2 separate regions of the Homo sapiens genome follow, and region 2 is linked to region 1. The links come from fine-mapping of genetic effects on gene expression. A gene starts in region 1. The other region holds a variant in brackets. All regions are shown on one strand. Distances are from middle to middle.

What was found. PIP is the estimated chance that this variant, and not a neighbour inherited with it, causes the effect. A credible set is the group of variants that fine-mapping cannot tell apart.
Region 2: its variant is the best candidate, but not a certain one, in a credible set for the expression of KLC3 in whole blood (INTERVAL, PIP 0.59).

What each region holds. Positions count from the first base shown.
Region 1 is chr19:45,339,521-45,342,328 of GRCh38, reverse strand. KLC3 (kinesin light chain 3) reads right to left here and starts at 1,579. Exons shown (of 13, transcript NM_177417.3): 1 at 1,483-1,579. RefSeq lists a silencer at 1,594-1,683.
Region 2 is chr19:44,554,223-44,557,030 of GRCh38, reverse strand. It overlaps the pseudogene CEACAM22P. Among named protein-coding and RNA genes, the nearest start is that of CEACAM20, 26 kb to the right of the region's middle. The variant G/A (reference allele first, on the strand shown) is at 1,133.

The DNA.
Region 1 (2,808 bases):
CAGGTATGAGCCACTGCACCCGGCCAATCTGTGTGCTTGTGTATATCACACCATACCTATTCTCACACCTCACACACAAACATCATAAATGGTTGAACTCACAACCACACAGGTTCAAGAGTCATCCTGACAACCACAACCATTCTTCACACAATTTTGCCGATGTAAAACCTCCCTCTATAACCTCAGACACAGCCTTACACACACCACTCCACAGCCAGATTGACAACCACAGCAACAAACACGGCTCAACCACAGCCATCCAGCACTCGGGCTGTGTCCCAGACACACAGCAGCTCCCACACTCACACAGAGCCCCGGGTGCACAACCGCACAGCTGATAATCATAGGCACAGTCCCACACACTGATCCCTGACGCGGACCCCCTTTTCCATCCTGTCACCCGCTTGGAGGAGCATCCCACTTAAATGTCCACGTCTCCACTCCCATCTCCCACAAACTCTCCGTTGCACACCACTGCCAGCCACGGTATCAATGCAGATCACACACCCTCTAGTTCCTCTCTACACACACACACACACACACACACACGCACACACGGCTTCACACACCTCCACACCTCACTCATCCAACCCCAAGGTTCCACGCGCACCGTCCCATGAAACAGCTCCACTTCTGGACACAGTTCCGCCCAGCCCCATGCACCATCACAGTGACACACAATCAAAAGTCAATCATAGTCACCTATCACTGATCCAGTGCCACACTGTCCACCACACGCGCGCGCGCACACACACACACACACACACACACCAACAGGCAGAAAGACAACCACAGCCGCACAGCCTCTTGGTCAATCACACCTAATCCTACAACCAGTTCCACTCTCTGCCATGAAGACAGCCACACACACAGCCACACACATGCACATCAGGCCAAGCAGAAAGTCGACTACAGTCGCACTAGCTCTTGGTCGTAAAGTGCTACCAGCAATCCAATTCTACACACACACCATTCCAGTCAGAGGTCGCCCACGTTTTCACATTGCTAAAAGTGTCACATCATACACACAGTCCCATCACAGGGTTACACGGACAGTCGCTTTCACCCTCATACCCACAGCCTGACACACTCTCTTACACACACGCAAAGCCACACACACACACACACACACACACACAAACACAGGCAGGCAGGAGACTCCCATCGTGGCCCAGCCCCGCAAGCCGCACCAACTTACCCTGGCCTGCCCAGCCCCGCGCACCAGGCTCACCCGCAGTCACAAGGGCCCCCTCCCTCTCCCTCCCAGGCCCCGCCCCGTCCTCGCTGTTTACCTGCGCTGGGGTGGGGGGCATGGGACCCCAGCCAGGCCTCCAGATCCCGGAGAGCCCCAGGACGGGGCAGGGGGCATCCGGGAGCCCCAAGGCCCTTCCCCGTCTCAGGGCGAGCGGGCCCAGGGTTGCCCCCGCCCCCCATCATCGCGGCTCTCCGAGAGTCCCGCGCCCCACTCCCGGCACCCACCTGACCGCGGGCGGCTCCGGCCCCGCTTCGCCCCACTGCGATCAGTCGCGTCCCGCAGGCCAGGCACGCCCCGCCGCTCCCGCTGCGCCGGGCGTCTGGGACCTCGGGCGGCTCCTCCGAGGGGCGGGGCAGCCGGGAGCCACGCCCCCGCAGGTGAGCCGGCCACGCCCACCGCCCGTGGGAAGTTCAGCCTCGGGGCTCCAGCCCCGCGGGAATGGCAGAACTTCGCACGCGGAACTGGTAACCTCCAGGACACCTCGAATCAGGGTGATTGTAGCGCAGGGGCCTTGGCCAAGCTAAAACTTTGGAAACTTTAGATCCCAGACAGGTGGCTTTCTTGCAGTGCCTGCCCCAGAGCCTTTTCCTTGGTTGTGTGGCCTGCTTCGATCTCTCTTCCCACAGATCTCATCGTCTTTAGGTCTCTTCTCAAAGGCCACCTCCTCCGGCAGGCCTTCCCTGATTGCCCCCTTCTAAATGGCACCCTTCCACCAAAACATTACATACTCCTCTTGATTTTGTTCACAAAACTTTTCAGGGCCTAAAATTACCTTATTTATTTATTGAGAGGGAGTCTCGCTCCGTCACCCAGGCTGGAGTGCAGTAGCGCGATCTCGGCTCACTGCAACCTCCACCTCCCAAGTTCAAGCGATTCTCCCATCTCAGTCTCCCGAGTAGCTGCGACTACAAGTGTCTGCCACCACGCCCGGCTACTTTTTATATTTCTAGTAGAGACGGGGTTTCGCCATGTCGGCCAGGCTGGTCTCAAACTCCTGACCTCAAGTGATCCTCCCGCCTCGGCCTCCCAAAGTTCTGGGATTACAGGAGTGAGCCACCGCCCCCGGCCCCTAAAGTTATTTTATATAACATATATCACATCATTATGTTATGTTATATATTATGTTATTGGCAAGGGAATGTGATATCTAAGAATTGGGCTCAGGGTTCAAATTTGATTCCGGCACTTACTTGCTGTGCAGGCCTTGGGCAAGTAACTTAACCTCTCTGTGCCTCAGTTTCCCTAGTCAATAAAATATAAATAGTCTAAGGCTTTGAGAATTGAATGTTAACTAATACAGGGACAGTACTTTTTTTTTTTTTTTTTTTTTTTTGAGACACAGTCTCGCTGTGTTACCCAGGCTGGAGTACAATGGCGCTATCTTATCTTGGCTCACTGCAACTCCTGGGTTCAAGTCATTCTCCTGTCTCAGCCTCCCGAGTAGCTGGGATTACAGGCGCCCGCCACCATGCCCAGCTAATTTTTCCATTTTTAGTAGAGACGGGGTTTCCCCATGTTAGCCAGGCTGATCTCGAACTCCTGACCTTAGG
Region 2 (2,808 bases), 790 kb after region 1:
TATTTGGTCCCTCAAGCTGATCAACTGAGGGATTTAGGTCTGTAACCATGTCTAGAAAAAATGCAAATGTGGGTATTTGATAATGTTTTCTTACTGTCAGTATGCATTTGGAAAGCATTCAGCATTACTTCTTGGAGTTAATTGTTTTATAGAGCTAATTATGAAGGTTTTAAGACCTCTTTGCGTAGATGTTGTTTTATTTTTTAGAATAAATTTATTCCTACACCTATTTTCCAGAAAGACACTGGTAGAATCATTCTAATAATAAGATGGAGTGGAATGAAGGGGACACTAATAGAAAATGAAAGGCCATGAAATGTAAATATACGTCTTCCTTTCAGTGGGTGTAATTTATTATTGACACACAGGACTTTTAGGACGACTGAATGATGAAAGAAGAGAAATTCTCGAAATGACTGAAAGAGAGTGGTGAGTACTTCCGCAACCCCTTCCATGAGTGTCTGTGCCTCTCTGATTTCTCTGAGTACAAGAGGATGCAAGCCCCAACTGAGGGCAGGCTGAAAATGTCAGAGAAATTAACATCCTGGGAGTGACCATTAACTAACACCAAGAAGGAATTGGTAGATATATTCCCCTGAACTTAGGGGGAACAACTCAGAGGTGGTTTTATTTTTTGTTGTTGTTGTTTTGTTTTGAGATGGAGTTTCGTTCTTGTTGCCCAAGTTGGAATGCAATGGCACGATCTTGGCTCACCGCAACCTCCGCCTCCCAGGTTCAAGTGATTCTCCCACCTCAGCCTCCTGAGTAGCTGGGATTACAGGCATGTGACAGCACGCCGGGCTAATTTTGTATTTTTAGTAGAGAGGGGGTTTCTCCATGTTGGTCAGGCTGGTCTCAAACTCCCGACCTCAGGTGATCTGCCTGCCTCAGCCTCCTAAAGTGCTGAGATTACAGGCGTGAGCCACTGCGCCCGGCCCTCAGAGGTGTGTTTTGTACCAGTTTTCAGAGGTGAGCTCCAGTTTTCTATAGAGCTAATTTTTCTATATGGCTTCCTTCTTTTCCCTTACTTACTTTCCCACACCTCTGCCAATGCTTTCTCCAAAATAAACTAATTGCACTAAGGTGTGGTGGCTCACGCCTGTAATCCCAGCACTTTGGGAGGCTGAGGCAG[G/A]TGGATCACGAGGTGAGTAGATCGAGACCATCCTGGCTAACATGGTGAAACCCTGTCTCTACTAAAAATACAAAAAATTAGCCTGGCGTGGTGGCAGGCGACAGTGCGAGACTCCATCTCCAAAAAAGTAAATAAATAAATAATAAACTAATTGCACTTACATTCTAGTGCAGAGTCTGATTCTGGGTGAACTAAGAGAGTGAATAACATTTACTATTTCAGTTTCTGTACCTCGATGTCCAAGTGTCCTCAACTGGGTTCTCTCACCAGGTCAAAATCAAGGTGTGATGTGAGTTGGCTGGGGTTTACCTGTAGGCTTTGGGAAAGAACCCATATCCAAGCTCATTCAGATGGTGGCAGAATCCTGGTTCTTTTTTTTTTTTTTTTTTTTTTTGAGATGGAGTCTCGCTCTGTCGCCCAGGCTGGAGTGCAGTGGGGCGATCTCGGCTCACTGCAAGCTCCGGCACCCACCAGCATGCCTGGCTAATTTTTTGTATTTTTAGTAGAGACGGGGTTTCACCATGTTAGCCAGGATGGTCTCGATCTACTGACCTCGTGATCCATCTGCCTCGGCCTCCCAAAGTGCTGGGATTACAGGAATGAGCCACTGTGCCTGGCCAGAATCCAGGTTCTTACAGTTGTAGGACTGAGGTCTGTTTCCTTGCTGGCTGTCATCTGCGGGTGCTCTAAGCTCTTGCAGGCCACTCTACCCTGCTCACACATTGACCCCTGCATCTTCAAAGACAGCAAGGATGCATTGAATCCTCCTTGTGTTTTGATTCTCTGACTTTCTCATCTGATCTGCTTTTAAAAGAGTCACCTGATCAGGTCAGGCCCACCCAGATGATCTGTATTTTAAGATCAGCTGACTTTGAGCTTTAATTACAAAATCCCTTCAAAGCAATACCTAGATTAGCATTTGATTGAACAATCAGGAACAGAAATCTGGAAGGACTATATTTAGAATCCTGATTACCACGCTGGCATTGGGGTTTACTCAGTTTCTTGATTCCATAGATGTATGTCTTTTACCAGATTTGGGAAACCAGCCATTATACCCACTTCCTCCTTTCCTTCTGGGTCTCCAATGACATGAATGTTGGCTCTTTTGTTAAAGTCCCACAGGTCCCAAAGTTCTGTTCTTCACTTCTTATCAGTCTATTTTCTTTCTGTTGTTCAGATTTGGTAACTTTTATCTGCACTGATTTTTATCTCTGTCATCTCCATTCTGCAGCTGGGCTCAAACATTAAGTTTTTAAAAAATTTCTGTTATTGTGCTTTTCCATTCTAAAATTTCCGTCTTGTTCTTTTTCATATCTTCTATTTCTTTGCTGAGACTTTCTGGTTTTTCACTTATTTCAAGTGTTTGTAATTGTTCATTGAAGCATTTTTATGTTGGCTGCTCTAAGATTCTTTTAAGACAATTCTAACATCAGTGTAGTGAATTCTTACAATTTTATAGAAACTCAGTATCAATTTTTGAAATGTTATTGTTTTGAGACAGGGTCGCACTCTGTCACCCAGGCTGGAGTGCAGTGGTGCAATCACGGCTCACTGCAGCCTCGAGCTCCTGGGCTCAAGTGAACCTCTCATCTCAGTCCCCCAAGTAGCTGGGACTATAGGCGTATGCCACCACACCCAGCTAATTTTTTGAAATTTTATTTGTAGAGACGGAG